2 separate regions of the Homo sapiens genome follow, and region 2 is linked to region 1. Evidence: fine-mapped expression QTL. A gene starts in region 1. The other region holds a variant in brackets. All regions are shown on one strand. Distances are between the middles of the regions.

Region 1 (5,343 bases):
GTACCTCACCTACACCAGGCTTTCTGACCCCTGCACTCCAGGAATCCTGCCCATGATGATGGCCACACTCTCCCTTACTTGGGTTTTAACCTACTTCTTGCTCATCTTCCTTCTCTCCCTTCCCTTATTTCTACTCCTCTGCTTTCCTCATGTTCTAGCTAATTTGCACTCTGTCAAGGAATGGATGATGGCTGGGTGCAGTGGCTCATGCCTGTAATCCCAGCATTTTGGGAGGCCGAGGGAGGTGGATCACCTGAGGTCAGGAGTTCAAGACCAGCTTGACCAACATGGTGAAATCCCGTCTCTACAAAAATACAAAAATTAGTTGGGCGTGGTGGCGGGTGCCTGTAATCTCAGCTACTGGGGAGGCTGAGGCAGGAGAATCGCTTGAACCCGGGAGGCGGAGGTGGCAGTGAGATGAGATTGCGCCACTGCACTCCAGCCTGGGCAACAAGAGTGATGCTCCGTCTCAAAAAAAAAAAAAAAAAAAGGAATGGATGATTAACAAGACAGACAGTATGGTCTGGCTGGAAGAGCAATGTCTTAAGAAGTGGGACACACAATTAACTTTTTCAGTACTCCATTCATTCATAAAATATTTACTGGGTGCCTGATGTGCACTGGGCATTTGGCTGAGAACAAGACAAACAAGGTCCTTACTCTCATGAAGCTTACACTGTAGTAAGAGGAGACAGACAATATAAGATGATGATAAATTCTGTGAAAACCATAAACAACTGTGAGGTTATAAAAAGATGGAGTGCCTATGGAAAGCTTTTTGGTTGATAAAGTCCATCAGATTAAGGTTATTAGGAATGTACTTGTAATCAGTACATCAGTTAGGCTTATTAACTTGCTGCAGGACACTACGGAAAACCACAGGGAACTTAGGGTTGAGGGTGTGATTTTTATAGGGTTGGCTTCCCTGATTGATTCAGGGAACCAGGTATCAACTCTGGAATGGTGCTGTCATGAAGTGGGGACAATTTAGTTAAGCGAATGACTGAGCAATTTTTTTTTTTTGAGACAGGTTCTTGCTCTGTCACCCAGGTTCTGGAGTGCAGTGGTGCAATCATGCCTCACTGCAGCCTGAACCTCCTGAGCTCAGGTGATGATCCTCCCACCTCAGCCTCCCGAGTAGCTGGGACTACAGCACACACCATCACACCTGGCTAGTTTTTGTATTTTTTGTACAGATGGGGTTTCACCATGCTTCCCAGGCTGGTCTCCAACTCCTGAGCTCAAATGATCCGCCTGCCTTGGCCTCCCAAAGTGCTGGGATTACAGGCGTGAGCCATTGGGCCCCGCCCAACGGCAATACTTATTCAAAAGGTGAGAAGAATAAAGTAGGGTGGGTAAGTAATTGATCAGTAAGCCTTTTGGAAGAAGGGGTGTTAGTAATTTTGCACCTATGTTATGGCCCTGAGAGAAACACTGTTTCCTGATGCTCTTGCCGTTGGCATTATCTATGCCTATGACAGTCTGAGTTATACTTTCTCAGTCCTGGGCTGATTTTTATTTTTCATTGTGGAGGAATTTTGAATTGACACTTGATTGATGAGGAGCCAGGCTTACTAAAATCCAGGGTAAGAGTCAGAGATATGTATGCACCCTAGCCCTGGCTCTGCTACAGTGTGTGATCTTGGGCACGTTTTTTCTTTTCTTTTAAAGACAACTTTATTAAGACATAATTTCTATACAATATATTCACTCATTTAAAGTGTACAATTCAGTGGTTTTAGTATATACACAGAGTTGTGCAACTACCATCACAATTTTAGAACACCTTCATCGCCCTTAAAAGAAATGCCACACGCTTTAGTGGTCACTCCCTATTTCCCCTAACCCTCCACACCCCACCCCACCAGCCCTAAGCAACTGCCAATCTACTTTTTGCCTTTAATAGTTTGGGGTCCACCAGGTGCACTGGCTCACGCCTGTAATCCCAGCACTTTGGGAGGCCTTGGCTGGTGGATCACTGGAGGCACGCGCCACCACACCTGGCTAATTTTTTTTTTTTTTTGAGACGGAGTCTCGCTCTGTCGCCAGGCTAGAGTGCAGTGGTGCAATCTTGGCTCACTGCAACCTCCACCTCCCGGGTTCAAGTGATTCTCCTGCCTCAGCCTCCCGAGTAGCTAGGACTACAGGCGCGCACCACCATGCCCAGATAATTTTTTGTATTTTTTTGTTTGTTTGTTTTTGTTTTTGAGAGAGTTTTGCTCTTGTTGCCCAGGCTGGAGTGCAATGGCACAATCTCGGCTCACTGCAACCTCCACCTCCCAGGTTCAAGCAATTCTCTTGCCTCAGCCTCCCGAGTAGCTGGGATTACAGGCATGTGCCACCACGTCCAGCTAATTTTGTATTTTTTTTAGTAGAGACAGGGTTTCTCCATGTTGGTCAGGCTGGTCTTGAACTCCTGACCTCAGGTCCCAAAGTGCTGCATTACAGGAGTAAGCCACCGCACCCGGCCAATTTTTGTATTTTTAGTAGAGACGGGGTTTTGCCATGGAAACCAGCCTGGTCTCGATCTCTTGACCTCATGATCCGCTTTCCTTGGCCTCCCAAAGTGCTGGGATTACAGGCGTGAGCCAGCGCGCCTGGCCAATTTTTTTTTTTTTTTTAAATTTTTAGACGGAGTTTCACCATGTTGGCCAGGCTGGTCTCGAACTCCTGACCTCAGGTGATCCACCCGCCTCGGCCTCCCAAAGTGCTAGGATTACAGGCGTGAACCACCACGCCCGGCCAAATTTGGGGAGCAATTTTCTTAATCTCTTTGTGCCTCAGTTTTCTCTTCTACAAAAATGAGACGACAATTGTACTACTGGTCATAGAGTACTAAGAGGATAAGCGAAAACTGAGTGACATTGCCTATCAAGAGCCTCGTATAAAGTCCGAGAGGTTCAGGTCTGTAAGTCAGAGTCCGCCTCCTGGTCCCTAAACGCTCATTTTAATCCCACGCCCCTCCGTGACACGCCCCTGCTGTCTGTCTCCAAGGCAACGCCCAACAGTTTCCTCTCCGGGATTCCTTTCCCGGGGGCAGTCTCTTTTCTCTCCTCACCTGACGGCTCCCCTCCGCGCCTCCGGGGGCTCCCTCAGGCCTCCCCACGGTCATTTCAGCTGGACAGAGGCAGCAGCGACAGTGACAGCGATAGTGGCAGCAGCGGTGGCAGCGAGAGCTATGCGGGGCCAGGGTCCACCCCTTTCTAGCTTTGGCGTCTGGTTGGCTTCCAGGGCAGCCTCCGATCCATCCCGCCCGAGGAGGCAAGGTTCGTTTTCCGATTGGCCTATTTTCTCCGCGCATTTTATTTCCGGTTCTGAGGACGCCGCGGAAGCGGGACGGGATTGGAGTGCTCTGCTCCGGACGCACTACGTAGGTGGGCCTGCGGGAGTTCTGAGTGCGACGGCGCAGGTCTGCACCATGGCGGCCCGGCTTGTCAGCCGATGCGGGGCTGTGCGTGCAGCTCCCCACAGCGGCCCGCTGGTGTCCTGGCGCAGGTGGTCCGGCGCCTCAACAGACACCGTGTATGACGTGGTGGTGTCGGGTGGAGGCCTGGTGGGCGCTGCCATGGCCTGTGCCTTGGGTAAGCCCTTCTCCAGGCTACTAGTGGCCGGAAACCGGGCCGCGGAGGCACGATGAGAGCCGTGAGAGCCCTAGCACGACTTGCCCAAAGACAATTTCTCAGGTCTCGCGACGCTTCTCCCCTCCCCTCCTAGAGGAACCCCAGGGCACGCCGGAATGCGTGTGGTCCTTCAGGGTCCATTAGGGTCAAAAGTGGGAGGGGCGTTCAGAGTCTGTTCTACTCATGGGAAAACAGGCCTTCCCGGGGTTATTTATAAATGAGAGTTCCAGTTTCTCCAGATCCTGGACAGTACTTGTCATTGTCTTTTTGTTTATAGACATTCTAGTGGGTGTAAGTAAAGTGGGATCTCCAGGTTTTGACTTGTATTTCCCTAATGATTAATGATGTTGAATATCCTTTCATATGTTTATTGGTCATTTGTATATCTTCTTTAGAGAAATGCCTATTCAGACCCTTTGCCCGGTTTTTAATTGAGCAGTTTGTCTCTTGAATACTGTGGTAAGAGTTATTTTTATTTTTTGAGACAGGGTCTTCCGCTGTGCCCAGGCTGCAGTGCAGTGGCACGATCACGGCTCACTGTAGCCTCAACCTCCCTGGCTGAATTGATCCTCCTGCCTCTGCCTCCCAAATAGCTGGGACTGCAGGAATGCGCCACCACTCGGCTGATTTTTGTATTTTTTTGTAGAGACGAGGTCTCACTATGTTGCCCAGGCTGGTCTGGAACTTCTGGGCTCAAGCAATCCACCTGCCTCAGCCTCCCAAAGTGCTGGGATTACCGGCATAAGCAACCCTGCCTGGCCATTATTTTGTTTATTCTGTATAAGTCCCTTATCTGATAAATGACTTGCAAATATTTTCTTCCATTTTGTAGTCTTTTCACTTTTTTTTTTTTCCCTGAGATGGAGTTTCGCTCTTGTTGCCCAGGATGGAGTACAATGGCACGATCTCAGCTCACTGCAACCTCTGGGATTACAGGCTTGTGCCACCATGCCTGGCTAATTTTTGTATTTTTAGTAGAGACGGGGTTTCACCATATTGGCCAGGCTGGTCTCGAACTCCTGATCTCGTGATCCACCTGCCCCTTCCTCCCAAAGTGCTGGGATTACAGGCATGAATCACCATGCTTGGCCCATTATGAGATTTTTTTTTTGTGATTTTTTTTTTTTTTTTAGCTCATCAGCTATCATTAATATTAGTGTTTTTTTATATGTGACCCAAGACAATTCTTCCACTGTGGCCTGGGGAAGCCAAAAGATTGGACACCCTGATCTAAGGGCAGCTGTTCCACCCTATGATCCTCATCTCACAAGATACACAAAATTTAACTTAAAGCAGATCATAGACTTCTGTAACAGGGTGGTTCTCATGGCTGCTTGGGAGGCTGAGGCAGGAGAATCGCTTGAAACTGGAAGGGGGAGGTTGCAGTGAGCTGAGATCGCGCCACTGCACTCCAGCCTGGGCAACAAGAGCGAAACTCGATATCTCAAAAAAAAAAAAAAAAAAAAAAGAAGATAGTGCCCTTTACAGAGCATGCTCTACAGAGCATGTCCCTGTGCCCCATCCTCCACAGCAAAAGCTGCCAAGATGGACCGCTCACTGTCTGTATGGCTGGAGCTAACTTTTTTTTTTTTTTTTTTTTTTTTTGAGACAGAGTCTCTGCTCTGTCACCCAGGCTGGAGTGCAGTGGCAGGATCCCAGCTCACTGCAACCTCTGCCTCCCAGGTTCCAGTGATTCTCCTGCCTCAGCCTTCTGAGGAGCTGG
Region 2 (5,376 bases), 320 kb after region 1:
AAAACTCCAAATCCACAAAAAATACAAAATTACAAAATCACTTGAACCTAGGAGGTTGAAGCTGCAGTAAGTCATGATTGCACCACTGTACTCCAGCCTGGGCAACATAGCAAGACCCCATCTCATAAATAAATAAAATGCAAGTGCTAGTCAACCTTCTGACTCTGACTGTCATACCTGGGATTCCCTTTCTTGTTTCCTATTCCAGTCATGCGTGAAACTTGTTTTTGTTATATTTTGTTCACCTCTAGATGTTCTTAATCAGAATTGTTTACCAGCCCACTCCACCATTGTCCTAGAAGCTCCTTTGTAAACTATAAAGGGCTGTGAAATGGGAACAACATGTTACCACTCAAGCCTTTGGCTTCTTGGTATCCTTCCCTATGGCTGGTGGTCACTGCCCCACTCAGTTCCCTGTTGGGACATTTCCCCCGGTCCTGACGTCAGTTATCTTTTTGGATTTGTTTTGCCTGGTTCTTATCAATCCCTTCTGGCCAAGAGGCTTCCGTAAACGCTCTGGGGTCTCTGAACCAAACATTTAGCCTCCCTGGGCCATGGTTCTGCGTCTCTCCTGTAACTGGCACCTTCCTCTTCATCTCTGCCCTCTGCCTTTAGAAGCGTCAAGTAAGCATTGGAGGAGCGAGCGAGTGAGTGGTTAGGCAGAGAGACAATGAAAATTTTTTTTTTGTTTGAGACAGAGTCTCGCTCTGTTGCCCAGGATGGAGTGCAGTGGCGCGATCTCGGCTCACTGCAGCCTCTGCCTCCCAGGTTCAAGCGCCCAGCCGAAAATATTAAATGTATTTTCTTCCAGTCTTTTGTTCCAGGCTAGGTGCAATGATAGCTGGAAGAATGAAAGTTCTCCCAAAGGCACATAGACCATACAGTTGGTAGGATAGTCAGGGAGTCAGGTAGAAATAAAGGGAAGGACTCTTTTAGTAGTACTTTAAAAAATACTTGCCGGGTGCAGTGGCTTACACCTGTAATCCCAGCACTTTGTGAGGCTGAGGCAGGAGGATCAGTTGAGGTCAGGAGTTCAAGACCAGCCTGGTCAACGTGGTGAAACCCCGTCTCTATTAAAAATAAAAAAATTAGTTGAGCGTAGTGGCGCATGCCTGTAATTCCAGCTACTCGGGAGGCTGAAGTAGGAGAATCCCTGGAACCTAGGAGGTGGAGGCTGCAGGGAGCCAAGATGGTGCCACTGCACTCCAGCCTGGGAGACGGAGCAAGACTCTTATCTCAACACCAACAACAACAACACAAAACTCTTAGCCGGGGGTGGTGGCTCACGCCTATAATCCCAGCACTTTGGGCGGCCAAGGCGGGCAGATCCCCTGAAGTTGGGAGTTCCAGACCAGCCTGACCAACATGGAGAAACCCTGTCTCTACTAAAAATGCAAAATTAGCCAGGTGTGGTGGCGCATGCCTGTAATCCCAGCTACTCGGGAGGCTGAGGCAGGAGAATTGCTTGAACCCAGGAGGTGGAGGTTGTGGTGAGCCAAGATCACGCCATTGCACTCCAGCCTGGGCAACAAGAGTGAAACTCCGCCTCAAGACAAAAACAAAAACAAATCCAGTTCACTACATTTTATTATTCACTCTGTATCTCTACTATTACTTTTTTTTTTTTTTGAGATAGGGTCTTCCTCTGTCACCTGGAGTGCAGTGGTGTGATCATGGCTCACTGTGGCCTCAGCCTCCTGGGTTCAAGTGATCCTCTCACCTCAGCCTCCCAAGCACCTGGGACTACAGACGTGCACCACCATGCCCAGATAATATTTTTTAATTTTTTTATAGAGACAGGGTCTCACTATGTTGCCCAGGCTGGTCTCAAACTCCTGGGCTCAAGTGATCCTCCTACCTTGGCCTCCCAAAGTGCTGGGATTACAGGCATAACCCCCGCTTGCCTGGCCTATTTTTGCATTTTTTTCTAAACCATTTGATAGTAAGTTGGGGACATGATACCCCATTACCACTTAATACTTCTGTGTATATTTCCTTAAAATGAGGATACTCTCCCACACAACCAAATACGACTAACAAAATCAAGAAATTGACATTGATTTGTCCAGAAGGGTGTTAAATACTATCAACTAGTCCACAGAACCCTGATCATTCCAAAAACGTCCTTTATCAACTGTGATCTGATCCAGGACTGCACGCTGAATTGAGTGACCCAGTCTCTGTAGTCTCCTCCAATCCATAACTGCCTTCTGTGACCTTGACGTTCTTGATGATTTCTGGCCAGTTACTTTATAGAATGTCCTCAATTTGGGTTTTGATATTTCCTCATAAGACTCAGGTTGCATACCTGAATCTGCATTTTTGGAGAAAATTCCATGGAACTGGTTCTCCATTCTCAGTGCATCATATCAGGAAGCACACCATGTTGTTCCATTCCTGGTGATGTTAATGTTTATCATTCGATTAAGATGGTACCTGCTAGCCAGGTGCAGTGGCTCATGTGCCTGTGATCCCAGGACTTTGGGAGGCCAAGGAGGGGCATATGGCTTGAGCTCGAGAATTCAAGACCAGCCTGGGCAACATGGCAAAACTCTGTCTCTACAAAAAATACAAAAATTAGCTGGGTGCAGTGATGTGTGCCTGTAGTCCCAGCTTCTCGGGAGGCTGAGGCAGGAGAATCGCTTGAGCCCAGGAGGGGGAGGTTGCAGTGAGCCAAGATTGTGTCATTGCACTCTAACCTGGGCAATGGGAGTGAAACCCTGTCTCAAAACCAAAACCAAAACAAAAAAAGATAGTACCTGCAGGTTTTTCCATTGTAAAGTTAATGAGTATCATGTACTTATTAACAAGTATTTTGTGGGATGATGCTTTGAGACTATATAAATATCTTATTCCTCATCAAACTTTAATCCACTACTTTTAACATCTGTTGGTTCCTCTTGTCTGGCTTTTTAGTGGAGAATGGTATTTAGGTACCAAAATCTAGGCACAAGGTATGCTTACTGTTATTGTGGTACAGTTGCTTCTAGGCCTTCTCAGGGGACAGAGTTGGGAAAACACACTGTATAGTGCTTACAGGTGCACTTTATTATTCTTTTTAAATTTTTTAAAATGTTACTATTTTTTTGAGACAGTCTCTTGTACTGCTCAGGCTGTAGTGCAGTGGTGGGAT[G/A]AGGCTTACTGCAGCCTCAACCTCCCAGGCTCAAGTGATCCTCTCACCTCAGCCCTGCCAAGTAGCTGGGACTACAGGTGTGTGCCACCACACCCAGCTAATTTTAAAATTTTTTGTAGGAAAAGAAAAATATTTAAATTTTTTGTAGCTCAATATGTTGCCCAGACTAGTCTTGAACTCTTGGCCTCAAGCAATCCTCCTGTCTTAGCCTCCCAAAGTGCTGGGATTACAGGCATGAGCCACTGTGCCCGGCCACAGATGCATTTTGAATATCCTGGCATGAAAGACTTCCCAGACCCCTTTTCTCTGACTGGAGGGGTCCAGGGTACTTTGATGTCCCCAAGCACATGTAGCTAATACCTCACTCACACCCCTGGAATGAACCTTTGAAATAAGCAAGAATTAGGCTTTCTCTAGTTTCAAGTCCAGCCTGCCCCCCACTATAAGCCACACACCCTTGCACTAGCTACTGCTTTTGTAAATGGGTTTGGGACAGTTTTTAATAAAGGCAGCATGTGCTAGAACCCTAACCAACGATTTATCAACATGGACACTAGACTGTCTACTCTTCTAAGTGCTAGGGGTATAGCAGTAGCAGTCTAGATTTCAAACACAATCAACTTACAGTGGGGGTGGGGGGTATAGTTATTCCAGAAAACCTAGGCTAAAGCCAGATGCTGCAATAGACAGTAGGATTTGGTTTTGATCCTCCCAGGAGACTGGGTGAAGTGGAAGCATGCTGATGACTTAGCATACTTCCAACTGAGTGCTGAGTAACAGAAGGCAGAGCTATCAGCCAGAGAGCATTCTGGGCTTCTGCCTATATTAGTCCGTGACTGCATAGTGGATGTGTGTCCAGAGTTAACCATAGCCCTGTGAGGCCACTGGCTGCATGTGGCTCCCTGGCCGTGGTACATCAGGATTAGAGGGGTGTGATGATGGCCACCCCCGTCTGTAACTAAAGGGAAACCAGACTCCTCTGGTGGTTCTATCTGCCTGGTGGGGTGCAGAGAGGGCTGTGGTTGAGCTTGGTGGCATGGTGCCAGGTCCCCTGGGACAGCACCATCTTTTCCACTGGAAGGGGGAGACAGATGGTAGGAGGAGTGTACTCTGTGGCTATGCTAGGAATGGAAAGTGCTCACCCACCTGACCACCCCTGGCAAAGCTGGGGGCCAGGCCCACTCTTCTCTGGAAGCTGCGGTTTGGCTAGCGAGTAGGGACAGATGTCAAGAATGTGGACAGACTGGCTGGGCGCAGTGGCTCACACCTGTAATCCCAGCACTTTGGGAGGCCGAGGTGAGCGGATCACTTGAGGTGAGGAGTTCAAGACCAGCCTGGCCAACATAGCGAAACCCCATCTCTACTAAAAACACAAAAATTAGCTGGGTGTGGTGGCGCCTGCCTGTAATCCCAGCTACTTGGGAGGCTGAGGTGAGAGAATCGCATGAACCCGGGAGGTGGATGTTGCAGTGAGCCAAGATCATGCCACTGCACTCCAGCCTGAATAATAGAGTGAGACTCTGTATCAAAAAAAAAAAAAATTACAGGAAGAATGTGGGCAGACAGAGTGAGCAGTGTGTGAGAAGACACCCTGGGCTGGGAGGACTGGCGTCAGGGAGAGGCCCTGGGGTACCTCCTGAGCAGAAGGGCAAGGGTGATCCATGTGTCCCTAGATGGGGAGGGCCTCCCCCAGACTCTCTAGGCCTGCCTTGGGGGAGCCGGTCAGACCATTTTGTTTTTTTTTTTTTTGAGACGGAGTTTTGCTTTTGTTGCCCAGGCTGGAGTGCAATGGCGAGATCTCGGCTCACCACAATCTCCACCTCCCGAACTCCCGACCTCAGGTGATTTGCCTGCCTCAGCCTCCCAAAGTGCTGGAATTACAGGCATGAGCCACTGCGCCCGGCTGGTCAGACATTTATTGAGAGCTCCCTATGCCTGAGGCTCCTTGCTAGCCCCATGTTTGACGACCAGGTCTGCTGCTGCCAGGACAGCTAGAGTGGGGCTGGAGTTTGGGGTATAGAAGTGGGCAAGGGCAGACACGGGAGCCTAGACCCCTGCAGGGGTGCCACAGGAGGGTAGCATGGGAGGAAAGGCCAGGCCTCTGACTCCACTGCTCACTCACCTGTCCCAGCGCCATCTCCTCATTCTGGGCTCCTGTCTGGACCAGTGCCTGGAGAATTCTGTCAGCCTCAAGACTTTCCCTGCCAGAGGCTGTTGGTGGCTACATTCAGCTTACCATGCTG

Alleles and levels. Positions count from the first base shown, and alleles are read on the strand shown. Sizes are in standard deviations (SD) of each study's normalised expression.
For the expression in anterior cingulate cortex of the gene that starts at base 3,180 in region 1, allele A in region 2 goes with a lower level than allele G (moderate effect, 0.64 SD a copy in GTEx).

The links. PIP is the estimated chance that this variant, and not a neighbour inherited with it, causes the effect. A credible set is the group of variants that fine-mapping cannot tell apart.
Region 2: its variant is the best candidate, but not a certain one, in a credible set for the expression of FAM161B in anterior cingulate cortex (GTEx, PIP 0.55).

What each region holds. Positions count from the first base shown.
Region 1 is chr14:73,946,915-73,952,257 of GRCh38, forward strand. It overlaps FAM161B (FAM161 centrosomal protein B), which reads right to left and starts at 3,180. Exons shown (of 9, transcript NM_152445.3): 1 at 3,059-3,180. The coding sequence starts at 3,112. COQ6 (coenzyme Q6, monooxygenase) reads left to right here and starts at 3,388. Exons shown (of 12, transcript NM_182476.3): 1 at 3,388-3,581. The coding sequence starts at 3,419. RefSeq lists enhancers at 3,070-4,070, 3,087-3,146 and a silencer at 5,140-5,343.
Region 2 is chr14:74,271,444-74,276,819 of GRCh38, forward strand. No RefSeq gene overlaps it. Among named protein-coding and RNA genes, the nearest start is that of ABCD4, 29 kb to the right of the region's middle. The variant G/A (reference allele first, on the strand shown) is at 3,134.